Linked DNA regions of Homo sapiens. The protein of the gene in region 2 interacts with the protein of the main gene of each other region in a pairwise test. Each region holds a gene or a part of one and is shown on either strand. Other genes may lie near its edges.

What was found.
Region 1: the proteins of EFNA2 (region 2) and ZHX1 interact in a two-hybrid assay, tested with the Homo sapiens proteins (one study listed by BioGRID).

What each region holds. Positions count from the first base shown.
Region 1 is NC_000008.11:123,244,734-123,260,087, reverse strand, and holds the end of ZHX1 (zinc fingers and homeoboxes protein 1), read left to right. Parts: intron 1-3,916; 5' UTR 3,917-4,141; coding exon 4,142-6,763; 3' UTR 6,764-6,766; intron 6,767-9,767; 3' UTR 9,768-11,632; downstream 11,633-15,354. UniProt on the Homo sapiens protein: Acts as a transcriptional repressor. Increases DNMT3B-mediated repressive transcriptional activity when DNMT3B is tethered to DNA. May link molecule between DNMT3B and other co-repressor proteins.
Region 2 is NC_000019.10:1,277,215-1,292,420, reverse strand, and holds the start of EFNA2 (ephrin-A2 precursor), read right to left. Parts: upstream 6,549-15,206; 5' UTR 6,253-6,548; coding exon 6,113-6,252; intron 1-6,112. Other genes in the region: protein FAM174C precursor, read right to left, coding at 13,644-13,644, 15,122-15,206. UniProt on the Homo sapiens protein: Cell surface GPI-bound ligand for Eph receptors, a family of receptor tyrosine kinases which are crucial for migration, repulsion and adhesion during neuronal, vascular and epithelial development.

The DNA.
Region 1 (15,354 bases), on a different chromosome or scaffold from region 2:
CTCCCGAGTTCAAGTGATTATTCTGCCTCAGCCTTCCGAGTAGCTGGGATTACAGGCGCTCGCCACCACACCTGTACGGCTAACTTTTGTATTTTTAGTAGAGACGGGGTTTCACTGTTGGCTAGGATGGTTGATCTCCTGACCTTGTGATCCACTGGCCTCGGCCTCCCAAAGTGCTGGGATTAAAGGCGTGAGCCACTGTGCCTGGCCGATGGCTTCTCTTTTATCTGTTTTGACCTGGGATTTCTCATAGCATTTTGTTTGATGAAAGGGCTCCCCTGCTTAAAACAAAAAGTTTGAAAACCACCACTTTGAGGAAAAAGTTTCAGAAAGAAACCCTCTTGCCTTCCAACTATTATTATACCCCAATTAAATATAGTCTCTCTCAGATTCCAGGAAAGTAACAGTCACAAAATAGGTTACTCCTCTGCCTTTCAACAATTCCCTTTACTGTTCAAAATATGAGTGCTGCTCATTTATTACTCTTCCACTTACTATTTTTTTTAGAAACAGTATCTTACCATGTTGCCCAGTCTTGAACTCGTAGACTCAGGGAATCTTCCTGCCTTAGCTTCCTGAATAGCTGGATTACAGATGTGTACCACCATGTCTGGACCACTTATTTGGAGCCATTTAAGGAATTCCCTGTTTCTAATGACAAAAAATGATCAAACATCTGTGTTGATACTTGAAAAAAAAAATGGCAACCCCTATTTGATTAAAAGATAACATTGGCTTAGTTTATAACATTTGGTTAAGAAATAGTTGTAAATATCAGTGATTTCTTTATAATATCTTAGAAATCAAGAGTGTTTTAAAGAAAAAAAGAATGACATCTTTGAGAGTAGGGATCTGGATTATTAATACCACTATTATTTTTAAACTGATGCTCTTTATTTGGTAATATGGGAAATTAGGGAACAAAGGACATTTAGTCCAATTTTCCTTCTGCTACTTGGATGTGTAGTCTGTATTTGAATAATTCCAGTGAGGAGGATTTTACCGTCCTTCAAAGTCAGGATATTCTCTCTTAGGACTGCTCTCTTTCCTAAAAATGTCTCTCCATTTACTGACTAGATGTATTGTCTCATAGGGACCTGGTTTTGCTTAATAATTTTTGAAGCAAACTCTCTTCTTCTCCATTCAGCTGGGATGCCAGTAAATTAAAAATAGCTCTAATTTGTGGTGAAGAATAAATGAAATCACTTACCCATTTTATTCGTTTTCAGTTGGATTAGACTTCAGAAACACAAACTTTACTTAGCATAAAACTTTTTATTTTAAAAATTTTAGGTATAAAATTTATTTAAATATATTTTATGATCCTAATTCATTTTTTCTTGATTATTTAAAGTTATTATTGTGAATTTCAGATACTGTTCTCTATGGTGATGCCTCCTGCAGGTCCTGTTGAGTTTTGTAGGACTATTTTCCTCTTCATTCTAGTCAATTTAATAAACATTGAGTGATTACCTCCCTAAATTCAGGCTTCTTATATGCACTTGGGAATGCAACATTAATGAGATGTCAGCCAAAATAGCTCAGCTGGGAGAGTATTAGGTTGAAGATACAAAGTTCCTTGGCTCAATCCAGAGTTTGGGGGACTTTGTTTTATCTCAAAAAAGCTGTGTCTCAGTCTCTTTGTGTTCCTATAAAGGAATACCCAGAGCTAGGTAATTTAGAAAGATAAAGGGTTTCTTTGGTTCACAGTTCTGCAGACTGTACAAGAAGCATGGCTCCAGCATCTGCTGCTGGTGATGGCCTCAGGCAGCTTCCACTCATGACAGAAGATGATGGGGAATGCATGTGGGCAGAGATCACATGGCAAGAAAGGAAGCAAGAGAGACAGTGGGGAGGTGCCAGGCTCTTCCTAACAACCAGCTCCTGCAGGAACTGGTAGAGCGAGAACTCACTCATTACCACATGGACAGCACCAAACTGTTGATGAGGGATCTGACCCCATGACCCAGACACCTCCTATTAGGCTCTGCCTCCAAGATTGGGGATCGAATTTCAACATGAGATTTGAAGGGATCAAACATCCAAATTATAGCAAGCTGTTATTAAAAATGAGACACAATATCTAGAGTAAGGAGACCACAGATATGGATGGTGGTGCAGGGACAGAAATGTAACATTACTCTGCCATGTACAGTATGGTAAGTACTAGACTAGAAAATAAACGGGAGGAAATGGGACCAAATGAAAGGGAGAAGGTGATCTCTAGTAGGGGTCCCCAACCCCTGTGCCATGGACCAGTACCAATCCATGACCTGTTAGGAACTGGGCCGCACAGCAGAAGGTGAGAGGTAGGCAAGCAAGCATTACCACCTGAACTCTGCCTTCTGTTAGATGAGCAGCAGCATTAGATTCTCATAGGAGCACAACCCTATTGTGACTGTGCATGCGAGGGCTCTAGGTTGCGCACTCCCTGTGAGAATCTAATGCCAGATCTGAGGTGGAAGAGTTTCATCCCAAAACCATCTCATCCCCTCGCACCGCGGTATGTGGAAAAATGGTCTTCCATGAGACCAGTCCCTGGTGCCAAAAAGGTTGAGGACTGCTGTCCTAGAGGGCACACAGATCAACACATCAAGTGTCCTAACCTAAGGAAGGGCCTGAGTAAGGGTCTGAAAGTGCATTGAATGTCTGTGGAATGGCAGCCATTTCTGGTATACCTAAAGCATAAGGAAACAGGAGGAAGGAAAGTGAGGTTAGACTAGGTTGTGAAAGGGATTATATGTCCCACAAGGAGTTTGAACTTTATTCCTTCAACATTAGGAACCTGTGTCAGGAGACTGATGTGATTAGATCTGCTTTATAACTTTTGGTAGCATTGTGGCAAGTGCTAAGAATAATGTTTCTGGTAGGCCAGGCACGGTGGCTCATGCCTGTAATCCCAGCACTTTTGGAGGCCAAAGCGGACAGATCACCTGAGGTCAGGAGTTCGAGTCCAGCCTGGCCAACGTGGTGAAACCCCATCTCTACTAAAACTACAAAAATTAGCCAGGCGTGGTGGCAAGCGCCTGTAATCCCAGCTACTCAGGAGGCTAAGGTAAGAGAATCATTTGAACCCAGGAGGTAGAGGTCACAGTGAGCCAAGATTGCGCCACTGCACTCCAGCCTGGGTGGCAGAGTGAGACTCTGTCTCAAAAAATAATAATAATAATAATAATGTTTCTGAAACTTTGATCATTCATCCTCCATCTTTGCTATTTTTGCCATACTTGAAGCATGCTTTTGGCTGATGAGATAGACCAGTAGGAAGAAGAGGACATAACTAATGAACTAATGGATTAAATTTCTTGTCTTTTTTTTTTTTTTGAGATGGAGTCTCACTCTGTTGCCCAGGTTGGAATGTAGTGGCATGATCTTGGCTTACAGCAATCTCTGCCTCCTGGGTTCAAGCGATTCTCCTACCTCAGCCTCTGGAGAAGCTGGGACTACAGGCACCTGCCACCACGCCTGGCTAATTTTTGTGTTTTTAGTAGAGACGGAGTTTCACCATGTTGGCCAGGCTGAATTTCTTACACACTTAATGGCCATAATATTTTAGTATCTGTGAATGCTTTTTATAGTGTTAAAGTTCCTCCTTGTTAACATTGCCATTTCACATTAATAATAGTGTGCTTGCCAAAGCAGGCCCTTTCCCCCTTGTCTTCTAATATATAGCTGGCTAAAAAATTTAAATGAATAAGCTTGTGTCTGACCCAAGGTAAAGTACTTAACATTCAATGAGTTGGCCTGGAGAGATTTATTTTGATCTTTAGAGGACATTTTTTTCTGATTCTTATCTTATTCTAGATCTTTGTAACTGAGCTATCCAGCCACTTCATATAAGTGAACTATAACTATAATTTGTTTAAAAGATCATAGTTACTCATTTTAAAACATTTTAAAATTTATTTTAATGTAGGTGATTGGAGTTGTGCTTCAAAAATTTCAGAAATTCAGCAGTATTTTATCTGCCAACAATAAGCTCTTTACTTGATTGCACCATGAGAAAGCTGCTAATGAGACTTGTTGAGCACAAAAATGGACTTGAAGAACCAAAAGCCATTGTTTTCAAATGAAGAACACTGAACAGTTTTAAGCCTCGATGCTTTTTAATCACCACTGAGCTTTTCCTCATAACATCAGAATGGCAAGCAGGCGAAAATCAACAACACCTTGCATGGTCCTTGCCAGTGAACAAGATCCAGACCTTGAGTTGATATCAGATTTGGATGAAGGTCCTCCTGTGCTTACACCTGTAGAAAACACCAGAGCAGAGAGTATCTCAAGTGATGAAGAGGTTCATGAATCTGTGGATTCAGACAATCAGCAAAATAAAAAAGTTGAAGGTGGATATGAATGTAAATATTGTACTTTTCAAACTCCAGATCTAAATATGTTTACTTTTCATGTGGATTCGGAACATCCCAATGTAGTGCTAAATTCATCCTATGTTTGTGTCGAATGCAATTTTCTTACCAAAAGGTATGATGCACTTTCTGAGCATAATCTGAAATATCACCCAGGAGAAGAGAATTTTAAGTTGACTATGGTGAAACGTAATAACCAGACAATCTTTGAACAAACAATAAATGATCTGACTTTTGATGGTAGTTTTGTTAAAGAGGAGAATGCAGAGCAAGCAGAATCTACAGAAGTTTCTTCTTCGGGAATATCTATCAGTAAAACTCCTATCATGAAAATGATGAAAAATAAAGTGGAAAATAAACGGATTGCAGTTCATCATAACTCAGTTGAGGACGTTCCTGAAGAGAAAGAGAATGAAATCAAACCAGACCGTGAAGAAATTGTAGAAAATCCAAGTTCTTCAGCTTCTGAATCTAATACAAGTACTTCCATTGTAAACAGAATACATCCAAGTACTGCCAGCACGGTAGTGACACCAGCAGCAGTTCTTCCTGGATTGGCACAGGTGATAACTGCTGTATCTGCTCAGCAGAATTCTAATTTGATTCCCAAAGTCTTAATCCCTGTTAATAGCATTCCCACCTACAATGCTGCATTGGATAACAATCCCCTTTTACTTAACACCTACAACAAGTTCCCTTACCCAACAATGTCAGAAATTACAGTTCTTTCTGCTCAAGCAAAATATACAGAGGAACAGATCAAGATATGGTTTTCAGCCCAACGTTTAAAACATGGTGTTAGTTGGACTCCCGAGGAAGTAGAGGAGGCAAGAAGGAAACAATTCAATGGAACAGTGCATACTGTACCTCAGACCATAACTGTTATTCCTACACACATTTCCACAGGGAGTAATGGTTTACCATCTATTTTACAGACATGCCAAATAGTTGGTCAGCCTGGTCTGGTCCTTACTCAAGTGGCTGGAACAAACACCTTGCCAGTTACAGCACCTATAGCCTTGACAGTGGCAGGCGTTCCAAGTCAAAATAATATACAGAAAAGTCAGGTACCTGCTGCTCAGCCTACTGCAGAAACAAAGCCAGCAACAGCAGCAGTTCCAACTTCTCAAAGTGTCAAACATGAAACTGCATTGGTAAACCCTGATTCATTTGGCATTCGGGCAAAAAAGACAAAAGAGCAACTGGCAGAATTAAAAGTTAGCTACCTTAAAAATCAGTTTCCCCATGATTCAGAAATTATCAGACTTATGAAAATAACAGGCCTGACGAAAGGAGAGATTAAAAAATGGTTTAGTGACACAAGGTACAACCAGAGAAATTCAAAGAGTAATCAGTGCTTACATCTCAACAATGATTCCTCTACCACCATTATTATAGACTCCAGTGATGAAACCACGGAATCCCCAACTGTTGGTACTGCACAGCCTAAGCAATCCTGGAATCCTTTTCCTGACTTTACTCCCCAAAAGTTTAAAGAGAAAACTGCAGAGCAGCTTCGTGTCCTTCAGGCAAGTTTTCTCAACAGCTCTGTACTTACAGATGAAGAATTAAATAGGTTAAGGGCACAAACCAAACTTACCAGAAGAGAAATCGATGCTTGGTTTACAGAGAAGAAGAAATCAAAAGCTTTAAAGGAAGAGAAAATGGAAATAGATGAAAGTAATGCAGGTAGTTCCAAAGAAGAAGCTGGAGAAACTTCTCCTGCAGATGAATCTGGTGCACCTAAGTCAGGGAGTACAGGCAAGATATGTAAAAAAACACCTGAGCAGCTGCACATGCTTAAGAGTGCATTTGTCCGGACACAGTGGCCATCACCAGAAGAGTATGACAAGTTGGCCAAAGAAAGCGGGCTTGCTAGAACAGACATAGTTAGTTGGTTTGGGGACACCCGTTATGCTTGGAAGAATGGAAACTTGAAATGGTACTACTACTATCAGAGCGCCAATTCAAGTAGTATGAATGGTCTGTCTTCCCTTAGGAAAAGAGGGAGAGGGAGACCCAAAGGACGGGGAAGAGGAAGACCGCGTGGGCGGCCTAGAGGAAGCAAAAGAATTAACAACTGGGACAGGGGACCATCACTCATAAAATTTAAAACTGGAACTGCAATACTTAAGGATTATTACCTGAAGCACAAGTTTCTTAATGAGCAAGACCTTGATGAACTTGTTAACAAATCACATATGGGCTATGAGCAGGTCAGAGAGTGGTTTGCAGAAAGACAGAGAAGATCAGAATTAGGTATAGAATTATTTGAGGAAAATGAGGAGGAAGATGAAGTTATTGATGACCAGGAAGAGGATGAAGAAGAAACAGATGATAGTGACACTTGGGAACCTCCACGACATGTGAAACGGAAGCTGTCTAAATCAGATGACTGAAATGTAAGTTAAGAAAATTTTTAATCTGCGTATATGTTCATCAACCACATACATTTTGAACAGTCACCTTGTTGTATCAGTCATCTTCATTTTTGATATTTTCTGAAGTAGTTTTTCTTTTCCCTAATAAGACTAGGTACCACTAGTATAGCTAAGAGATAAATGATTATCATGTGTAGTTTTATTATTATTATGTAGAGTTTAATGTCTTAATTATTATTTTTCATATGAATTGGGTTTTTTTTACTTTGTTTTGAAGGAAAGTTACCCAATCTCTATGAAGGGAGACTGGCAGGCAGGTTGAGGGGATTCACAAACAAATACTAAAGATAACTAAAATGTATTTTATTGCAATGCCCCCTTCACTAAAGCTTCATTTTTTGCCTATTTAAGGAAATAATTCAAAAATGAAAACTAAAAAGAAGGGGAAAAGTACACCAAAGGAAAGACTTACCACAGGGTTGAGGATTGTGCAGTTTTAGGAAACTAGGTGAAAATGGGTATCTTTTCATCTTCATTGCATTGCTCCCAAAACTTTACTAGACTTTTAACTAGAGTTTAAAATGCTTTATGTATTTATGAAATTACTCAGTATCTTTTTAGTAATTTATAAAATTACTCAATATCTTTTTCTGTTAAAAGTCAAAGGTCTGTTTTAGGCCATATATAAATTCATGTTTGCTTAGGCGGCATCTGTCTTTGAAAACTGTGATATAAATTATTTCTGTTTTAGAGATCAAAAGGCAAATAACAGATTTGATATAAACCCAATTGCTTAAAATATCTTTTCATTCTTTGGTATAAAACAAACCTGCTACCAGCACTAACATTGTATTTGATTTAAAGTATATCTCTGTAGTCTTAAAAATGCAAATAAATATGGCTTAAATTTGAAAGGTTTTGGCATGTTCCTTAAATCTTAGTTCTTTTATAAATTGGATTAATTAAAGTTGAACTGTAGTTGCAAATCAGATACCTGCTTTGGAGTTAGGAATTGAATTCTTAATACTTCTGGAATTTAATAACATAGTTTTATTCTTTGCTATTCTTTGTTTTGGAGTGTTCCGGGGTAAAAGTACACTGTTTTGAAAACAATGCAGTTGTCATGAAATGTTTGTGTATGTCTGTCAGTAGTCCAAATAGCATCTTGCTATCAGAAATGACTGCTGTGTTCAAACAGTAAGGAAGGAAATGAGACGTAGACCCTCATTATTATTTTATACGTGAGCATGCTTACTTATTTCCTTGGCTTTTTGCATGAGTATCCCATCCCCTACTTTTATGCTCTGTTATTCTGTGCAGTTTTTCCTTAATTCCCTTACATCTTCTCTCTGGTTTTATTTATTTTAACAATTATTTATAGAGAGCTTAATATGTACCAGGCACTATTCTTACTGCTTGGCAATCCTTTTTCAGGTTTTCTCCTTGTTAATATTTTTTAAGGGATAACAGATGAAACTAAAAATGTACCTGTTTTAATAAGCAGTATAAATATCATTCCAGGTTATAGGGTATAATGTAATCATTTTAGGTTATAAGAAGTTAAACAGTTTCATACAGCTTTATCCTGAAGTGCAGCCCTCCATTTCCTAATGTCAGAAATCTTCAGAGCAGGCTTTCTTCTGACCCAGATACATAAAATATTTTTAACAGGCATTTTTTTTATTGCTAAACACAAGAATGTGCACTCAGCCAAGATTAAATCAACAAATTTGTTGCTGCAGTGAATGTTGTTGTTGTAACCTCTGCAATGATTTTTTTGGGGAGTTGCAGTCTTCCAAAAATAATGTGAATTTTTCTGTACAGTTTAGTTTGACCTTTAATTTTGTATAGATAATTCTTATGTTATATATTAACACTGTAATGGATACTAATTCTGGTCAGAAAATTCATCCTAAAACTACAGTTTTCAAAAGACTGTATGATGTATGCTATACATGCACTGTATTAGTCCATTTTCACACTGCTATAAAGAACGACCTGAGACTGGGTAATTTATGAAGAAAAGAGGTTTAGTTGACTCACAGTTTTGCCGGCTTAACAAGAAGCATGACTGGGAGGCCCCAAGAAACTTACAGTCATGGCAGAAGGCGAAGGGGAAGAAGGGGAAGCAAGCACATCTCACCATGACCGAACAGGAGAGAGAGCGAAAGGGGATGTTCCACACAACTTTCAAACAACCAGATCTCCTGAGAACTCACTCACTATCATGAGAACAGCCAGAGGGGAAGTCCACCCCCATGATTCAGTCACCTCCCACCAGGCTCCCTCCCCCGACACTCCCTGATTAAAAGTTATGTATGGGCTTATACAATTTCAAATGTAAAAACAGCCTATTTACATATGTTGAAACAATAAGATTTTGTGGTATCACTGTCCCTTAATAATTACAATTCAAGGTAAGATTTGGATGGGGACACAGAGCCAAACCATATTATATACTTTTGTGATAGCATAGAAGCATGCCTTTTTAAATACACAAAAGTCTAAATTTCTGAAACATCAAGTTATCCTTGGCTGAGTAAAATAATTTTTCACTTATAAGAGGATTCACCATAGCCTTCTCTAAATAGTTATTTCTTCATTTAAATATTGTTCAATTTACCAAAAAAGTTACCAAAACCTTCCCAAAATAGTTATTACAGGAAGTGAGGTACATATATATCTTTTGCACCTTGTATAGAAATAGAAAAAAGTACAAGTCTTTAGATTTCATAGTCTGCTTATTACAGATACTGACAATGAAATATATACTCCCTGCTCATACAGTTTGAAATAAATTATTACATAAAGATGATAAATGTTTATAAGCAAATCTAGCATATGAAGAACATATACATAGATGAGTTGCACACAAAGCCTAGTGTATTATGGAAGACATATGTGGCAGGTAATCTCAAGAGAATACAAAAGATGTATTTTCACTTTTATTTCTAAAAGTAGTAAAAATTAAAATATGGTTTTCTTTAAATTTTCAGTTTTTTATGATGTTTTTCTTTTTTAGCTGCCTAAAACGTTGAAGGAGAATCAATTCTTCAACTCAAGATGTCTGATTTACTGTGAATTTGCCCAATCTTTGATGACATTGAAAACGTTTTGGGGCATACACACTCAAAAAGCAGGATCCAATACCCAAAAGAAATGGAACTTAATGTTGTGCCAAAGTTAAACTACTGCAGTTGGTGGAAGTTCTGCAATGTAAATAGAACACTAATTAAAAAACAACTTGTAAAAATGCAATTTAAATTTTAATACAGTACATTTTTCTTCTAATATGATGGAGACATTCTGAATCTTAGACTTTCTGAGGGGGTTTAATGACCACTAGAGCTTGTCCTCATATTCAGTCCAGTTTAATACTGTATGTCTAGTAAGATGGGCTATATATTGCCTCTATTCTTTGAGATGTGATTAAGCTTAGAACTTTGACCAAAAATTTTACAGTAAAAATTGTTAGAAATGGGTAAAAAAAAAAAAAAAAAAAAAACCCTGATTTATTACTATGTCTTATTTATCAGACCCTGCACTAAGATTAAAAGTTGTGCATGGGCTTATACAATTTCAAATGTAAAAACAGCCTATTTATATATGTTGAAACAATAAGATTTTATGGTTTCACTGGCCCTTAATAATTGGATCCTTCATTAAACACATCCATGAATACCACTGTTTCTACTGTTACTTGTTCCATTAGAAGCTGATTTGCTTTTTATTAAACTGCAGGAAATTAATTCTGAAGAAGGAAAAGAAACTGACATGGTAATTTGGATAGGGTGAAGCTTTGAAATAAATACTGCACCAAAAATGTGAAAAAGAATCACGTAGTAAATGTATACTTAGTGTTTTCTTACAATCGTGGAAATCAGAAATGTTTATACAGGTGTCAGATCAGAATTTTTAAGAGTTATCTTTCAGTGAAATTTTATAACAGTTTCAGTGAATAGAGAAAAAATTCTGAACTGATCATAATGAGTTAAAAGTTAGCTTTTCACTTATGAATCATGGGAGTGTTAACTGTTAACTCTTGCCGTATCAGGAGACTGAAAGTTCATACTAATTTACAAACTTTGTAAAGACTGGTGCTGTTCATTCATATTGGGAAGAACCCTTTCTTTTGTGACCATAGGACCATTTTTCAAAATGCGCTTTCTTCGTAGAAGAAATGTTCAGTTTAATTAGCTTTGGATTTTAACATGTTTTTCTGAATGACCAGATGTAGGCTTAGCCAGTTTATTTTCTCTAATTTAATGGATAATAAATATTAAGCTCTTGGTTAAATGTTTTTCAGCCATTGAAAATGTTATGAAAAAGCCTTGAATATGCATGCTGCTTTCATTTTTATAAACTTTTTATTTTTTAACTATAGCTTTATTAGTAATTCCAAAATGCTGCAATGTAGCTGATTTCCTCACTCAGACAGCTGGCTTTGTGGGTGGCTTTTTTCATACTACTGTTAACTTTTTTAAAAAAGAAGCAATGTAAAGACCGTAATGCACTAAGCTTTTTTTTTTTCTTTTACACGTTTAAAAACTTCTTAAAGCACTCTGTAATATAATGATTAAATTGCTCCCTTTTATAAACATTGCTAATGTGGTCTGAGTTTTGTTTGACAATAATTTTAATGTTCTCAAAATTTGAAATGTCAAGTATTAGAAATGAAGCCTTTGAATATAGTTGTTTCCCTTGCAATATGTTAACTCTGTGTAGCTGTATATAACTATTAATTTCCCTCATCTCTTTTATAGGCCTGATAAAACTCTTCTCTGACGTTTGCTAGCTTTTAAATATATTTATTTGACAGAGCAAAAGAACCCTCTTCTGGTTGATTGTGACCTTGAATACAAAATAAAAGTAGTGATTAGTAGTTTACAGTGACCTTTTTTTTTTCATTTTATTAACAAAGTCAATTTTTAAAACATTGTGGTAAAATATATATCACATACTATTTGCCATTATACCAGTTTTTAAGTGTAAATTCAATGGCATTAATTATATTCACAGTGCTGCACCACCTTCACCACTTTTCCAAAAGTTTTTCATCACCCCAGACAGAAACTCGGAACCATTAAGCAATAACTCCCCATTCCTCCCAGCCCCTGGTAACCTCTAATCTACTTTTTGTCTCTATGAATTTGTGTATTCTTGATATTTCAAAGAAGTAGAATCCTAAAATATTTGCCCTTTTGTGTCTGGCTTATTTTAACTTATAATGTTTTCAAGTTCATCCATGTTTTAGCGTATATCAAGACTTTGTTTCTTTTCATGGCTGATTTATGTTTTATTGTGTGTGTGTGTGTGTGTTTGTCTGTACACGTGCACTTCCTCCCACACACATTTTGTTTATCCATGTATCTGTTGATGGAAACTTGTTTTTTTCCCGCCTTTTGGCAATTGTGAATAATGCTGCGGTGAACATTGGTATACAAGGATCTGAGTACCCATTTTCAGTTCTTTTGAGTATATCAAGGAGTAGTATTCCTGAATCATGTGGTATTCTGTGTTTAATTTGTTGAGGAACCACCAAACTCTTCCACAGTGCTAAAATGTTCTCTGAAGCATCTGTACCATTTTACGTTCCACTAGCAATATACAAGCATTCCAGTTTCTCCACATTTTTGCCAACACCTTTCATTTTCAGTTTTAAAAAGTGATTATAAGCCCAGTGCGATGGTCTGTGTCTGTAGTCCCAGCTACCAGGGAGGCTGAGGTGGGAGGATCACTTGAGCCTAGGTATTTGAGGCCAGTGAGAGCAATATAGTGAGACCCCATCTCTAAAAATAAAATAATAAAAATTATAACCATCCTAGTAAGTATGAAGTGGTGTCTCATTGTGGTTTTGATTTGTGTTTCCCTAATGATGAGTGATAATGTCATTAGGAAAATGCAAATCAAAACTACATCTTTTCACATAATTATTTGTATATCTTCCTTTGAATATATTGAAAGTTTGTTCAATCCTTTGCCCAGTTTTTAATTGGGTTGCCTTTTTGTTGCTGAGTTTTAGTTCTTTATATATTCTGGATGTTACAGCTTTATCAGATACAGTTGCTTCTTGACTTAGAATGGGGTTTGTCCTGATAAACCCATTGTAAGTTAAAATTTTTGTAAGTTGAAAATCCATTTAATACCCTGATGAACTCACCATAAACTTGAACTATCATAAACTATTACTATTTTTTGAGACAGAGTCTCTGTTGCCCAGGCTGGAGTGCAGTGGCACCATCTTAGTTCACTGCAACCTCTGCCTCCTTGGTTCAAGCGATTCTCATGCCTCAGCCTCCCAAGTAGCTGGGATTACAGGTGCCCGCCACCATGCCCATCTAATTTTTATATTTTTAGTAGAGACGGGGTTTCACCATGTTGGCCAGATTGGTCTCAAACTCCTGACCTCAGGTGATCCACCCACCTCAGCCTCCCAAAGTGCCAGGATTACAGGCATGAGCCACTGCACCTGGTCACAATCATAAATTATAAATCCATGTGTTTCTCAGTTTACTATGGGGTTAGGTTACCATGGGATTATGTGTTAGTAAATCCATCTTAAGTCCATCATAAGTTGGGGACTGTCTGTATTATGATTTGCAAATAAGTTGATCCTCATTATGGATTCTGTATATGCAAATTTGCCTACACATTAAAATGTATTTGTAACCCCCAAATCAGTATTCATAGTACTTCCTTGGTCATTCCTGCACATGTACAGAATGGCAACAAAAAGATGTTCCCAGCAAAGGTCAACCAAAGAGATGCTTTGCCTTGTTTCAGGTCTCATACTGTAGAGAAGTGTGTGTGTGTGTGTGTGTGTGTGTGTGTGTGTGTGTGTGTCCATAGGAATGAAAAAGCATCCTTTTGTAGTCTATTTAGTGCTGTGTTTTCCATATTTTTCTGCTTTCTGCAGTTTAAAATGGTCCCAAGTGTAGTGCTGAAGTGTTGTCAGTGTTTCTAAATATTAGAAGGCTGTCATGTGCCCTATGGAGAAAATATGCGTTAGATAAGCTTCATTCAGGCATGAGTTACAGTGCTGTTAGTCATGAGTTCAGTGTTAATCAATCAACAGTATTAAATAAGGTGTCTTTAAACAGAAAAATACAAAACATGGTGATGTTTTGATTGATTGATAAATATATTGTGACCAGAGGCTCCCAGGACCCTAACCCTAGGAGCATGTGTTCAGGATTTGCTAATTCAGTGTGACTTTATAGAATGTAATAACTGTGAATAATGAGAATTAGCTGTATTTTTCCCATTCTGTAGGCTGTATTTTCATTTTCTTGATAATGTCATTGATGCACAAAAAAGTTTTTAAGTTTTCCGAAGCCCAGTTTATCTATTTTTGTTGTTGTTGCTTGTGCTTTTGGTGTGATAGCTAAGAATCTATTATCAGGCTGGGCGCAGTGGCTCACACCTGTAATCCCAACGCTTTGGGAGGCCAAGGCAGGTGGATCACCTGAGGTGGAATTCAAAACCAGCCTGGCCAACATGGCAAAACCCTGTCTCTACAAATATAAAAAAATTAGCTAGGTGTGGTGGCACACTCCTGTAATCCCAGCTACTCAGTAGGCTGAGGCAGGAGAATCACTTGAACCCAGGAGGTGAAGGTTGCAGTGAGCTGAGATCGCACCACTGCACTCCAGCCTGGGTGATAAACCGAGACTCTGTCTCAAAAAAAAAAAAAAAAAAATCTGTTACCAAATTCAAGGTCATGAATAATTTTCTTCTAAGGGTTTTATGATTTTTAGCTCTTATATTTAGGTTATTAATCCATTCTGAGTTAATTTCTTAATATGGTGCGAGGCAGGGGTCCAACTTCATTCTTTTGCATGTGGTAATCCAATTGTCCTAGCATCATCTGTTGAAGCAATTATTCTTTCCCCCATTGAATGGACTTGGAACGCTTGTCAAAAACCAATTGGCTATAAATGTGTGAAGGTTTATTTCTGGACTCTTAGTTCTGTTCCATTGGTCGATATTTCTATCCTTATGCCAGTACCACACTGTTTTAATTACTGTAGCTCTGTGGTAAGCTCAGGCTAGAGAGGCCGTGTTTGGGATGTGTACAGACAAGGCAGAGAAAGCCATTCTGCCTAGACAAACAGAATAAATGAGAGTACCTAAGGTGCTAGAATATGGGGCAGGCAGAACCAGCCAGTGACAGACAGTTCTCCAAGTCTCCATGAAGCTCTGCCATTTTGTTTTTGGGGGATATTTAACAACATGTCAAATAAAGTTAACTTTGAACTGATCTGCTCACTGCCTGGGACTTTAGACAAGTTACCTCTCAGATCCTATTAATATTTCCTCATCTATAAAAATGGGAATAATAGTATCTAAACTCAGAGAGATTATGAGAATAAATAAAAACAATAGGGTGCCCATAGCATGACCTCATTATAGATGCTCAATAAGTGTTGGTTCTTTCCCTCCCCTACTTGCAGATAGGACATGAACAACTGACTTAGAACTGAGAAGTGCTCCTCTGTTCCTTTTGCCATTTCCTGGTCCTCTCTCTCTCTCTCTCTTTTTTTTTTTTTTGAGATGTAGTTTCGCTCTTGTTTCCTAGGCTGGAGTGCAGTGGTGTGATCTCAGCTCAC
Region 2 (15,206 bases):
TAATGAGTGAATTAAAAAGGTCAAGAGGCGAGGACTTTGCAATGCCAGAGTTGTGGGGAGCAGCCCACAGGTGTGTGTGTTGGAGGGCAGGTCCCAGGGGAACCCCCACCCCCGGCTCTGCCTGCCGGAGTGGGGCCGTATTTTTCCCTTTGCGTCTCTAAAATAGCAGCGGCCTTGCTGTGTTGGCATTCCCGGTTCCAAGTTGGCGGGCAAGCCCGAGGTGGGCGCGTTGCCCCTGTTGAGGGTGGCGCCTGCAGGGGGGAGGGGGCCCCCACCCCAAAACCGCACCTGGGGAGAGGCAGACAAAGCCTTCGCTTCCTCCATTAGTGATGAAGCCTCGATATGCAAATCCTCCCCGGAGCGGCAGAGAGACTGAAATTCTCACTAAGGGGTTAATGACTGATTTGGGATTTTTCCCAGACAGAGCAGCGGTGGCAGTTTTTACTCCTCCGGGTTCCCTCTGCCGGGCCACACCTTCCCCCCACACTCACTCAACCTGCGGGTGCCAAAGTCCACGCCTCCAGGCAGCCCTCCAGGCCCCAGGCAGAGGCTCACCCAGCAGGGCTCCCCTCCTGCCCACCCGGGCCTCCTGGCTGTCACCAGCTTCCAGCAAGCGGCCTGGAGCTAATTAGCTCCAATCGGGCAATTGTCAAGTTATTAGACGCTAATAGCTAAGCGACTAATTAGGAATCTCACCCAAAACTGGGGTGGGGGTGGGCTGGGCTGCCTTCCAGGACTGGAAACTGAGGCAGTGGTGTGGCCGGCAGCCAGGACCCCGTGGGTGGGCAGGTGGACGCCTGCACCCGTCTGCATCTCTCTTCCAGGGTGGAGAAGCTCCCGGGGAGGCCCAGGCTGGCCGGATGAGCAGGCAGCCCGGGTCCTGAAGCCCAGCGTGGGGCTGAGGCCGCCCGTCCCCTCCTGCCACCCCCAGCAAGACCTGCTGGGGTGACAGCACCCACACCTGGCTTTTCCAGGGACGGAAGAGATGTCCCCCCTGACTGAGGACTGGAGCTTTTCCTCCTGCTCAGGACCTGGGTGGGACCTGAAGGGAAATCAGTCCCCGGGATGGTGCAAGGTCTGCCCAAGAAAGGACAAGTATGGCCTTGTGGTGCAGGAGGGTAAACTGAGGCAGGGCCCTAGAAATGAAGCAAAATAGGAAAAAGATGGGCCGGGCAGGGTCAGCCCCACCTGGGCTTCCGTCACCGTGGGCGTGGGTGGCCCTGGTACAGAGTGCAGCTGCCGTCGGCCACCCACCTTCCTGCCCCTCCCAGGGCTGTCCCTGGCTTCCCCCGGGCCGGCCCCAGGTGGGACACCCTGGACTCTGCCCAACTTCCGGGTGGCCTTGGGTGAGTCACCGTCTTTCAGGGCCTCGGCTGCTCTGTCCCTGAATTGGGGGCCCCTGACCCACAGGGCAGGTGGACAAGGGGCGCACAGAGCTGGGGGGACACGCCGCTGAGTCTCTCGGCCAGACCCCACACCAGCCTGGTCTGGGAGCAGGTGTGGCACGAGCCCCCCACCAGGACCGACTCGGCCACAGAGTTCAAACGCCTGCTTGAGGTTAAAGCAAAAACCCCGCCGGCTCGTCTGCTCCTCCGCAGGCTCCAGCCGCGTGTCTGGGGCGACGGGACGGTGGGCACAGGGACGGGAGCAGCTCAGCCCTTCCCCCAGCAAGGTACAAAGCCCAGCTCTCCCTGAGGACCCATCTGCAGGAGAGGCTGGTCCCACACACAGGACTGAGGGGCAAGGCCTGGCTGCATCCCGGTTCCTGGGGAGGAGAGAAGCCGTGTCCCGGGGAACACACGGCCACCGGGGCAGGACCCTCATGGATGACAAGGAGACCACCGGCTCCACAGAAACGCTACCACCCGGACCCCCATGAATGCACAACCCACTGCCTCCGCCGTGACCCCGAGGGACCCACGTAGGGCCAGTCCCCTGCAGACCTGCGGAGACGTCAGCCCAGAGACGGGGGAAGGTCAAATCCCACTGCGTTCACGGCCCCCCGCCACGGAACCTCTGTTCCCTTCTCTGCAAACTGAGGCCGCCCAGGGAGGCCTGCAGTGGAGGCGGAAGGCCTGGGCCACCCATGGCACCCCAGGATGCCCAGAGATGGGGAAGACAGAGACCCAAAGAGACCGTGAGACACAGAGACCATGGTGCCTCGGCAGAAGCATCCTCCCCACCACAGGAGCTGCCTCGGTTTCCCTTCTGGGGAGGGGACACTAACCCCTGGGACCACCCTCAGGCCTTTGCCCATCCACACCAGGCCCTATCGGCCGAGCCGCACCCACCGCAGGGCTCCGTCACCCCCACTTCGCAGAGCAGGCCTGGGGGTTCCAGGCTGCTAAGCCACCTGCCTGACGTCATGCCCAGGTCTCCCAGACTCCCGAGTCTGAGTCCAGGTACCCCACGGCCTCCAGGACCCCACCCTCAGGCCCCGAATCCCCCAGGCCCACCGCCCGGCTCTCCTAGCGCCCCCAATGCCGAGTGGACCAGCTTCTCTCAAACAAAACAAAAAACCCTTATGCAGCAGAACACGGCATCACCCCCTTCAAAGCCGGCTCCCCGAGAGGCCGAGGGACGCCAGCGGAGCCACGGGGAGCGAGACACCCCGTTCACCTCTGCCCTCTGCTGGGGGACGGCTCCTCCCTCGGGGAGTGAGCCCTTGCATAGGTCACCATTTTCCATCCAGTGTTTGAGGGGAACCCGGCTGCTGCCCACACCCGAGGGCCACTGGGTCCGTGGGGAACCCCGGGAGGGTGGCCGAAGCCCAGAGATGCCCAGTGTGGGCAAGCGCCCACCCAGTGCCCCCAAGGCTGCAGATTTCCAATCAGAAGGTGGGGACTCCCGGGGACCACAGGCCCCTGCGTCCACCCTGCTCTGAGGCTTGATGGCCGTCTGCACACGGGCCCTGGTCCCGTCCCCAGGGGAGGAGGAGAGGGAGGGCCAACAGCGGGGTTGCCATTGTGGACCGTGCTGGGGCCACCACTGCCCCCACATTGCAGGCCCTCAGCCAGCCAGCACTGCCCCCAGGGAGACACACTTACATGCACCCCACACGCAGACACGCACACACACCTGCACTCCACGCACAGACAAAACGCATGCATGCCACAGGCAGACACGCACAGGGACCTCGGACACTGCAGACATCCCGTGCAAGGGCACGCACATGCAAACGCGGGTGCCACGCACAGACACACTCATGCACACACATGCACCTCATATGCAATCACGCAGACACATGTGCAAACACGCCAGAGCTGTGCCCTGTGGATTCACGCAGCCTCCTGCCACACACAGACACATGTAACCTGCAGCCGGATGCGACTCCAGGCACACCTGCACGCCACCCTTCCCCACCGCTGCACGCAAACACACATGAGCAGCCGTGGGAATGCACACGCGGTGTTGTGGCCAGGACAGGTGAGGGCAGCCGGCCAGGTCCAACAGGACAGGTGAGGGCAGCCGGCCAGGTCCAAGCCCTGGACGCCCCAGCCCGATGCGGGTCGGCTGGGAACAGGCCCAGAGACTCCTGGCGGCCAGCTCAGGGGTACCCAGCCCAGGTTGGGGAGTGGGTTGGACGGACGCTGTGCAGTCACCGGTGGGAGTGGCGGGGCCGGCCAGCCAGACCACCCAACGGGGCCCCACCTTATAGCGGCCCAAGGAGGTGGGTGCGGGGTCCCCTGGGTGCAGGCATCGCCTCTCACAGCAGAGAGGGTGTGATGTGGAGACAGACCACACAGTCATCGCCTGGGCACAGGTGCCAGGCCAATGGGCGGAAGGGGCGGCCGGCGACGCTGCGGCACTGCCCGGGCCTGCAGGCCCCATCGAGCACACGGTCCCCTGGTGCCCACGCTGCTGTCTGCCCCCCATCGCGGCTGTCCCCGTCTCCAGTGCCTTTCTGTATGCCCCTCTCAAAGACTTGGGGTCCCCGCATCCCCCACACACCTGCCCGACCCCATCATCCCTCCCCGGCCAGCCCAGCCTCACACCTTAGGCCTGCCGGCTGACGCCACTCCTCTCCCCAAGCCGATGTCCCCTCCACAGGGTCCCCTTGGATACGGAGGCCCAGCACCACCCCCTGCTGTGCCTGACACCCCCGCCACTCAGGCACAGGTCCCGGGCAGGTGCCCCTGGACACCAAATCTGAGAACTGCAGAGACCCCTGATGTCCGCGACAAAGCCCTGATTCTGGCTGGATCCCGGCTTCCCGGGAAGGTGCTCACCCAGCCCTGGGCCCCACTGCAGGGTGTCGGCTCCGTCCCCAGCAACCCTGGATACCGCAGGCAGGAGAGGAAGGAGGAGGCAGCCTCGGTGCTGCCCAGGTCGGCTCTGCGGACCAGCAAGGCCGTTCCCTCAGGCAGCGGTTTGAGCTGGGCAACCAGGTCAGACCCGGAGCAACAGGAGGTGGCTGGGCCAAGCCAGGCACTGGGGAGGCCACTTCCTTCCCCTGGCCGGGGGTCCGGCCCGCAGCCCACAGCCCTGTGGCAGGTGGGGCAGCAGGACGGCCCTGGTGACCACCTTCCTCCCCCGGTTGCCGGGTCCTCGTGTGTTTGGCGTTTGCTAGAACAAAGGACAGGCCACGCTGGGGACGGGAGATTCCGCAGCTGAAACCAAAAACTTGGGCCGGGGAAGCGCTGCCCGCTGGACTCCCCGCACGGCCAGCGACAGCCTTAATCAAACCCACATGTGACCAGCACAGCGGGCGGCTCGGGGACCCGCTCTGAGGTGGGCCAGCCGTCCCCCAGCGGCCCGGGGTCCCTGCCCTCAGCCCCCAGGGCCCGACCCGAGGCCGTTGACCAGGGTGGGGGGTGGGCCTGTGCGTGTTCCCCACCCCCACGGCGGAACACGGGCCGCCCTTGTCCCCGAGCCCGCCTCAAAGAGACCCCTTCATGCAACTTTCCTCCCGGGGACCGAGGACAGCAGGAGACAGAGGGGACAAGGAGGGGTGGCGGGCTCCAGAGGGCGGCTCGGTCGGCACAGGAAGCGGCTGGAAAACGGAGAGAAAGTGACCAGTAGCAGAAGAGTGGGGGGGGGCCGCCTCAGCCCCCGATGTGCAGCTCCGTGTGCCTTAGGAAGACGGTGACACCCTGAGTGCTGGGGCTGACTCCCTCCCGAGCCCCAGGACCCCCAAAGCCCCGGCTCCCACGGGACCCCCAGGGAAGCTGCAGCCTGCTCCTGTCTTGGAGACCCTGGGATGGTTCAGAGGGTTCTACCCACGTCCAGGCCATGGCCAGGCCCCGGCAAACTTTTTTTGCTCTGACCAACGGGGGCTTCTCCTGTCCCCCACGTTGTGCCTGGCCCGGACCTGGTTCAAAACAAGGGGGCCTGCAGCAGGCGGGTGCGGCATCTCGGCCGGGCGTGGCAGGCAGGGCACTGGGCCACCTGGGTCCTGCCCCCAAGTCCCCCCCTTGCATGACCTTGAGCCAGCTCCTCATCCCCTCTGCACCTCAGTTTCCTGGTCAGCGCCCAGAGGACAAGAGAGGACTCCATCCCACTGCCCCTCCCGGGGCTGACCCCCAGCTCCCCGGCCCCTCAGTCTCCTTTCAAAGCTGGGCCCTTGGCCCCCTGGAGTGAAGCAGATGCTGGGTCCTGAGGGAGGGACACTCCAACTTCCCCAAGTTCATCTGGGGACCTGCGGGCAGGACGAACCCAGAGATCCCTCGAGGGCCACAGTCCCCCACCTCCGGTGCCAAGGTCCCCGGGGATCCCCACCAAATGCGAAACCGAGGGGGCTCCCCAGAGAAGCGGGTGGATCAGGGGTCCCCCCAAGTCCAGGCAGGCAACTCAGGGGCTACCCGGCATCGGAGGGTACCAGAGGGGTTCCCCAAACTCCAGGAGACGTCGGCGCTCTGGGGGATGTGGGGCGCGAGTCCCCACAGTCCGTAGGGCAATGGGGCGCCCCGGGGAAGGCAGGCGCGAAAAGGGCGAGTCCCCCAAACTCCGGGGGGCCGGAGCTCCCTGGGGGGCTCCCGCGGGAACCGGGCGCCCGCATCCCGGCGGCGGCGCGCGCGTGGGGGGCGCCCGGAGCTCCGGGGGCGCGAGGCCGGGCGCGGCTTGGGGGGCGTTGGGGGGTCCCCGGGCGCCCCCCGCGCGCGGCCGCGCTCACCTGGGGTTGCTGCGGTTCCAGTAGACGGCGTAGCGGTCCGAGTTGGCGCGGGCGGCGTCCTCGGCGCGCGCGAAGGGCGGCGGCGGCAGCGGTAACAGCAGGAGCAGCAGCGGGAGCAGCGGGCGCTGCGCGGGCGCCATGGCCCCGGTCCGGCCGCCGCGCTCGCTCTCCCGGCCGCCGCCTGCCAGCCTTCTCCGCCTCCTCCGCCGCCGCCGCCGCCGCCGAGCGGGCGGGCGGAGGGCGGGCGGGAGGAGGGCGCGGCGGCGCTTGGAGATCCCGGGCCGCCCCCGCCTCCGCGCGCGCGACCTCGGGCGCCGAGAAGTCAGGCGGCGGCGGGGCGGGGCGCCGGGGTCGCCCCGGGCGCAGGACCCGGCCGCGCGGACTGTCGGAGCGCGGGCCGCCGCCGCCGCACCCGCCGGGGAGGGGCCCGGGCTCCGGCCTTTGTCCCGCCCGAGCGTCGGGAGGGCCGCGGGCGCCCCCTCCCGCCGTGCCCCGGCCGCGCGGGGACTGGGCGGGGGTCTCCAGCCTGCGCCCGCCCCCTGCCCCGGCCCACCCCGTCTCAGGCTCGTCCCCCGGGGCCTGCCCCCAGCGACCCCGATTCTGCGCGCCCCCCGCCGGCATCCGCGTGGCCCGGCCTGGGGTCTCCGAGGGGCGGGGGCGCACCCTGCCTCCCGCGCCCCCACGCGCTCCACCCGGCCCGGCCCTGGGTCCCGGGCCTCTCACCTGCCCGGTTCCAGCGCTATCCGCAGCCTCACCAACCCCGACGCACGCGTCCCAAATCGGGCTCGGCCAACTCCAGTCTCCCTGCGGGGGCCGGGGCAGAGTTTCAGAGGGGCGCTGGCCAAAGTCCAAAGCTGCTCGGGCTGCGACCTCCCTGGGGCCCTCCTGGGAGTCGCCTCTCCGGACCCACGCTGTTCCCTGGGGATGGAGTAAGTCCCTACACCTCAGCCCTAAGGGTGCCGGGAGCATAGTAGGTGGACCGATGTGGAGTGTGAGCAGCTGGGGATGGGATCCAAGAAGCCCAGAGTGAAGCCCCGGCCGACAGCAAATCAGTCTCCACGCACGAATCCTGCAGGCAGGGGAGGGCCGCTGCCCGGGGGCACAGCTTGTGCAAAGACCCGGGGTCTGATCTGTTCAGGGAACGCCGAGTGATTTCTCCTCCTGGTAGGCTGACACAGGTGGGGAACTGGGGGCCTGGCCTCTGCTTTGTCTTTTTTCCAATCTATAGAGACAGTGTCTGGCCATGTTGGCCACGCTGGTCTTGAACTCCTGGGCTCAGGCGATCTTCCCACCTGGGCTTCCCAAAGTGCTAGGATTACAGGCGTGAGCCACTGCACCTGGCCTGCCCTCTGTTTTTGCCCTTATTCATGCCACAGCCTCCCTCACCAGACTCTGAGCTTGTGGAGGGTAGGCTGTCATCAAACGCTGGCTGGACTTTGCTGGCGATGCCCAGATCGTGTTGTACGTCTCTGAATTAGTGTCATTCACCAGGCCCAGTGCAGGAGAGGGAACTGCAGGGCAAGCACCAACAGCCCTTGGACCCGAAGGTCCCTGTGTGAGGCATTACCCAAACTCCTGGCAGGGACCGTGAACCCAGAGATGGGCAAGCTAACCTGTGCCCCAGCAAGGTGGGGTGGGGACCGGACCCACCACCGTCCCACAGCTCTGAGACGTGGTGGGCTCTGTCCTGTGTCTCCTGCGTGCCCTCCTCCCCCGATTCCCCAGCGGGCCACGCGGGCCACACCACCTGACCTTTGTTCAGGCTGGGTCCTGCTGGGAAGTCCTTCCACTTTTTCTTCCTGTTAAAATCTTGCTCTTCCAGAAAGGTCTGTCCCACCCAGTGCTCTAGCGTCCCTGCCAGGACAAGGTTCTCAGTTCTCTCTCCTCCAGGGAGCTCAGCCCGTCTGTTCTGAGCTCCAGGTCTCATCCCCTGACCCCACTACAGACGTCCCAGGTCGAAGGCCCAGGGCTGGCCGGGTGTCTCTTCAGTGGAGGGCGTGAACCTGTCCCAGGTGGTGGCTGAGGCAGGCCCTCTGGACAGGCTCTCTCAGCACCCCTGGAGTGAGGGCCTTGGGTTCTAGCCACACAAGGCTCTGTAGCCCAGACAGGCTGGAGAAGCTTCCCGGGCGGCTCCGTCTGGTGGGGGGCTCTTTTAGGGAGGGGGACGGCCACTCCCGGAGGTGAGCACTTTCGGAGCAGAGTGTGGCGGCTGCACCCAAGCACAGGACAAGGGGCCGTGAGCCTGGGGTCTTGGCGTGCCCGGCCCCAGCATGCCACCTGGCAAAGGTGGGAGTTCTGGAAGCTTCCTTCTACCCTGGGACCAGAAGCCCCCTCCTGCTTCAAGGGATCTCGTGGGTGAGGAGGGGTGGGCCAGGGTCGGGAGGAGGGGGTCTCTTCTCAAACCAGGACTGGGACCTGCACAGGTGGGAGCTGGAAGGGCACCACCTCCACCCAGGCATGGCAGGGCCACTCATTTGCATGCAGGGGCCACCGAGGCGAGAGCCGCCACCACCGCCACCGCTGAACGGATTTGAGCAGAAGCTCCGTTTTCCTTCTGTTCTTGTCTCTCTCAAGGTCAGAGCCCAAGCAGGGACGGGAACAAAGGCGGTGCGTCCCCCATTCAACCTCCCCGCGCCCGCTGGCCGCTCCTAGAGGAAGGACCTGGGGAAGGGAGGGGAGGGCAGGGCGTCTCCGAGGCCTGGCCCTGGGCGAGGCTGCCCCGGCAAACCCCTGCCTGGCAGGGGGGCCACTGTGGGGGTCCAAGAAGCCCTGTTCCCTCCTGGGGCTGGGAGCTGTCCCGGCTTTGGGACGCAGCCGCGGCCGGAGGTCACTCTAGAGTAAGCTTCCTGTGGAGCCAAGGGTCAGAAATCAGGCTCACTCTGGGAACAGGTGTCCGCCAAGGTCAGGGGTTATCCAGGGTCGCCCTCAGTCCCTGGTCTGGAGCCAGTACAGGGCTTGATGGGGTCTGGCCCCGCCCCCTGCTCTGCACTGCTGGGACTGGGGTCTACCCAGACTCAGGAAGGGACTTGTCCAGCCCGTGCCCAGCACCCACTGCCCACATGGCCAGGCCACAGGGCTTGGGATCAGCGTCCCGCAGCCCCTCAGCCTTCAAAGGCCGCGACGCCAGGAGGAAGCTAAAAATATGCGGGGAGAATTTCTCATTACAGAATAAATTGGACCCAATGCGCTGCCTGCCCTGGTGCCGGCAGCCTTCAGAAGCCCCATCTCAGCCAGGCAAGGATCAGGCGGCAGGGGTCACGGGGCGCTGGGGCCCGGGCAGGTCACAGGCTCCACTCAGGGCGGGAGCCCCACCGCTGTCCATCGCCCCCCACCTGCGAAGCACGGAGCTGGGGTCTGCGCTTAGCCCCAGGGGCCAGGGGCGTTTCCCCTGGGCTGGGTCGCTGTCCTTGAAAATAAAAATGTATCCCTTTCTCCAGTGGGTAACATGAAAATCCCCACCCCCATCCAGCCATGGACCCAAGATTCCTGCAACCCCTGCAGCCAGTGGTGGAAAAGAGCAGGCACACAGCCCCATTCCCAGCTCACCCTCCTCCCTCCTCCCCAGCTCCCATCCTTCCCATTCTCCTCTCTTCACACTCTCCTCCCTCCCTCCTCCCCTCCCTCCCTCCTCCCTTCACACCCTCCTCCCTCCCTCCTCCCTTCACACCCTCCTCCCTCCCTCCTCCCCTCCCTCCCTCCTCCCTTCACACCTTCACACCCTCCTCCCTCCCTCCTCCCCTCCCACCCTCCTCCCCCTCCTCCCTTCACACCCTCCTCCCTCCCTCCTCCCCTCCCTCCTTCCCTTCACACCTTTCCCCTCCCTCCCCCTCCCTACTTCCCTCCCACCTCCCCTCCCTCCTTCCCTTCACACCTTCCCCTCCCTCCCTCTCTCCTTCCTCCCCTTCCCACCCTTCTCCCCTCCCTCCTTCCTTCCCCCTTCATACTACCCTCCCCTCCCTCCTCCCCCTTCCCACTCTCTTCCCCCTTAATACCCCCTCCCTTCCTTCCTCTCTCCCTCTCCTTTTACACCTTCCTCCCCTTCTCAGTCCTCCGCTCCCTCCTCCCTCCTTCCCCTTCACACCCTCCTCCCCCCTCCTTCCCCCATCCTCTGCACCCTCCTCTCCTTCCTCCTCCTCCCCTTCCCTCCTTCCTTCCTTCCTCCTCCCATCCTTCCTCTCCATTCACATCCTTCTCCTTCCCACTCTGTCCCCTCCCTCCTCCCCTTCCTCCTCCTTCCTCTCTCCCTCATCCCACCTTCAGGTCTGGGGCCTGAACACAGACCCGTTCTCCAGTGTCCAGACACCACCAGCGTCCAGAACTTTCCAAGACAAAGGAAATGTCCCTGCCCCCACCAATCGCTGTCCACCACAGTGACTGAGGCCCCAGACCTCTCCCCACGGCGACTGAGGACCCGGACCTCTCCCCATGGCGACTGAGGACCTCTCCCCATGGTGACTGAGGCCCTGGACCTCCAGTTTTATGTAACTTAATGAAATAACGTGAATAGCCATGTGTGGCTTTGTGTCCCACAGCAAAGCACTGGGTGCTTCTCAGGGGCTGGCTGGCCTAGGACGGGGACGTCAGTGGCCTTAATGTGGGGTCAGTGGTGGCTCAGGCCCCCCACAGAGGAGATGGGCACCTGGGGGTGAGATCCCTGGAGGTGGGGAGTCGAGGGTACAGGGGTCTCAGCACCCCCAGAAGAGGCAGAGAGCCCTCCGTCGCCTGCCAACCCGAGTGACTGTGATTTGGCACATGGGGCCACATCCCTGGGGCACCCCGGCACCAGGGCGGCAGAGGAGCCCTGTCTCTATCTCCCCAGGATGAATGTCGGCCCCAAGCTGTGGGCACAAGCCGGCGCCGCAAGGAACCCAACGCATCCCGCCTTTGAGGCCACGTCCCCAGCGCCCACCCGCCCCTATTTCACAAGCGGAGAAGCCCCGCAGTGAGTCCACTGGACTCCAGCCTGGGCGGGGCCCGCTGCTGAAGCAGAGACCCCCACCCCCCCCCACCCAGAGGCACAGACCTGATATGCTGCTTGTCCAGTGGGCACACCGAGGGGCAAGGGTGGGGGGCATGGGTCTGAGACACTCCCCGGCGTGGGGTTAGGAGCTGAGCAGGTCACACCCATGTGTGTGATCGCGTGTCCCACGGGGCTGCGGGCGTCCCATCCATGGAACTGTCCGAGTTGCTTACCGTGTGTCTATGAGACTGTATTTTGTGGGTGCCTGCGTGTCTGCGTGTCTGCGTGGGAGAGGTGGAGGAAGCCACTGCCCGCCCCCGCAAGCTCCCAGGCACCCGCACACACACGCACTCCCACGGGCACACACACGCTCACAAGCCGAGCACCAGCCGGGACCTGGGGCCTTTCATTTCTCGCTGACAGGCCCCTCTCCGGCTCTGAGCCCAGGAGAACCCCTGGCTAACAGTGCATTAACCTTGGGGGGCTGCCAATTACTCTGCAGCAACGTGGGGTGCAGCACGGGCCCCGACAGGCAGAGGGGACGGAGGCAGCAGAGCCCCTCTCCCTGCTCGAGCGGGGGGCGGCGGCGGCTGGGCTGGGGGCTGCGGCATGTTCCGACTCCGGATGGCAGAGCGTGGGTCTCTCCTGACCTCATTAGAGTAATTAATGTGCCTTTTGAAGCTGGTGAAAGCGCTCAGAGCTGTGGGACGGGGGGCACAGATCACAGGGTTGGGGGCCGGGGCTGGTGTCTCCGTGCCTGTTAAAAGTGTGTCCCAAAGGGTCAGACATGGAGACAGAGACGGACAGAGACAAAGTGAAGGAGGCAGATGGAGAGATGCAAACGGGAGTTTGGAGACAGACGCAACGGCCAGACAGATGGGGAACAGCAGAGCCCGAGTCATAGGTGTGACTTGCTTGTCCCCAGTCCCACACACAGCCAGGCTGAGCCAAGCTGCCCTCCCCACCTGCAGTCTCAGGGGCCTCCCTCGGGCTCTGCCCTCACTTTAAGGGTTGCTTCCCCAACCTTCCCTGCAGGATTCCCCTAAAGAACAGGCTGGGGTGGGCAATCAGGGAGGACTTCCTGGAGGCGGCAGCTGAGGCTGGGGCAGAGAAGGACCCAGGGCACTGGAAGGGGAAGGAGAAACGTAAGCAGAGTCTTGGCAGGCCTGGTCAGACGGACATGCCCAAGGGAACAGATAGTACCAGGACAGGGGACCCTGGTCTGAAGGGGCGATAGCCTGGCCCCCAGTGGAGACAGCCCCTCCCAACCCTGGCGGCAGACAGGGAGGGTCGGCAGGTATGTGAGATGCAAACCTGGGGGACTGCCCATCCCCCAGTGGATGTGAGGACACGGTGGGTTCAGGAAGTGGAGTGACAAATGGGCTGTGCTGGACTTGCTTTCCCACATGAAGGGTTAGGACCAAGGAGACAGCCAGAGGACTGGGCGGCTCAAGGCTGCCACCTGGTGGCAGCTCCTCCTCGTGACAGGGCAGTGGCAGCTCCAGACAGGTTGCCTGTGGGGGACCTCAGGCCATGGGTACCCACGCACCATGGTCTCTCCAAGGCTAACCTCATGGGGGACAGGATGACAGGCCAGGGCTGGACTCCGCCCAGACACAGGCCCCTGCAGGAAGAACAAGGCCCCAGGGAAGCTGATTAAGCACCTTGCCTGGGATGGGGTCTCAGGCTCCAAGTCCCACAGGAGGCAGATGGGGGAGGAGTGTCCGGCATGGGGACCCAGGCCGCACGGAACTCCAGCCTCCTGCAGCAGAGCTCTGGGGCTCCCTGGAATCATTGCCAGAGGTATTCATGAGGGTGATGTGGGGATCCTCCAGGGCAGGGCCCATGAGACCCAGGCTGAAGGGATGGCATAGAGGGGGCCCTGGGGCAGGGGCTTTGACGGATGAATAGGAGTTCTCTCTAGGAAGAGAGATGCTGACAGGCAGGGCCTCATCCCAGGCAGCTGAAGATGGGTTCCTTACTTGGGAGCAAGGCTGGAGAACCCAAGCATGGTCGCAGATGGGGAACCGAGGCTGGCTTGAGCCCTGCTCCGCCACCCACCCCCACACTGGCTGCACCAGTACGCACGGGTCTAGAGGTGGCATGGGGTCAGCACCAGCTGCAGAGACATGGCTGCATTTATTGTTCCCAGCCCGGCGAGAAGGTGTTCCCAGAAAGGTTCCTTGGGTCACCTGCCCACCCAGCCTTGGCTCTGGGCTGCCATGTCCCCACGGGGGCAGGAGAGAGGCACAAGTCACAGTCAGGCAAGGGAGCCTCAGCGTCCTGGGCGGTGGCTGTTGGGGTCCCTCCAGTCTTCACCTGGGACCCTCGGCCAGGCTGGGACAGCATCCAGGAGGCGAGGCTGCATGGTCCAGCGGTGGGTGCAGGTGGCAACAGGTCGGCGGGCTGTGCAGGTTCCAAAAGGAGCTCTCGGGTTGGCACTGGGTGAGACCAGCCCCGGGGCCAGCAGGGGAATGAGCGGTGGAGCAGGGGGTTGCTGGGCACTGGGGTGGGCCCCATCTCCTGTCCTTCCCTCATGGCTGCTGGAAGGGCCGCCTCCCTGGCTCAGCATCTGAAAGCAGGGGGTCAAGGGTGAGAGGGAAGGAGTGAAGGGCCCGCCCTGCCGGGCAGAGGCTCACCCAGGTCAGGCAGGGGCAGGCAGCCTGTCCAGGCCCCTCGGTCTACCAGGGCCCAGCCTCCCCCCACTGGCCTCCCTCCCCGGCCTCCTGGGCCCTGTGCAACTGCCCACTCCGGGGGAAGGGGCCCCCAGCCAGGAGGTAGAAGAAACCTGGGAGGGGTTCCCAGAATGGAGTCAGAGCATGCGGAGGGATCCCAGTGCCTCCCTCCCTGGGGGCTCAAAAAGTCAGAGCTGTCCCCAGAGGCCGCCCAGTCTCCTGGTCTCCCAGCCTCCATGCCTGCCACCCCCCAACAGGCCAAGGTCCCCCCAGCAGCCACACTGCAGCGCAACATACCCATCATTCCCTGCCCAGAACCCTGCTAACCCCTGACAGCTGCCTCGATGCCCAGGCCTACCCCAGTCCCGCCCGGCATCTGCGCAGCCCGGCCGCTCCCTGCTGTTCCCTCGGCCTGAGACACTCTTCCAGAAGCCAGCCCCATTACACCAGGGAGAGGCCCTCCCTGACCCCGCCCGCTCAGAAGCATCCTGCAGTCAGTTCTCCACCTGACTTAGACCTCATCCCTCAGGGAGGGGCCCAGATGGAGCAACCACTACCCTAAGCCCTGCAGCCGCTTTCCTGCCTTAAAAAAGCAAGAAGGCTGACCACGGTGGCTCACACCTGTAATCCCAGCACTTTGGGAGGCCGAAGCGGGCAGATCACCTGAGGTCAGGAGTTCGAGGCCAGCCTGGCCAACATGGTGAAACCCTGTCTCTACTAAAACTACAAAAATTAGCCGGGTGTAGTGGTGAGCACCTTTAATCCCAGCTACTCAGGAGGCTGCGATGGGAGAAATGCTTGAACCTGGGAGGTGGAGGTTGCAGTGAGCAGAGATCGTGCCATTGCACTCCAGCCTGGGCAACAAGAGCGAAACTCCATCTCAAAACAAAACAAAACTTAGGTCAGGTGCGGTGGCTCACACCTGTAATCCCAGCTCTTTGGGAAGCCCAGGCAGATGGATCACCTGAGGTAAGGAGCTGGAACCCAGCCTGGCCAACATGGTGAAACCCCATCTCTATCTACTAAATACAAAAAATTAGCGAGGCGTGGTGGCGGGTGCCTGTAATCCCAGCTACTCGGGAGGCTGTGGCAGGAAAATCGCCTCAATCCCGGAGGCGGAGGTTGCAGTGAGTTGGGATCGCGCCACTCCACCTCAAAAATAAATAAATGACAAACATTTAAGTTTAAAAAAAAAAAGTTGTAAATGGAGGCTGGGAGAAGGGATGAGCCCTGCCCAGTGGGGCCATGGCCTGACTACCGCTGTCAGCTGTGATTGCAGGGACCACTCCATGGCTTGGCCAAGTCCCCAGGGTCCTGCTGAGTCTCCAGCCCAGCCTGCCCACCGAGGCCCCAGAGCTGGGGAAGGGTGCACACCATCTCAGATTCCGGGACTCAAACACCGTCTCCTCGTCGCTGTCCAGCGAGGCCATCTCCGTGGGGTCCTCAGTGTTGGCGAGGA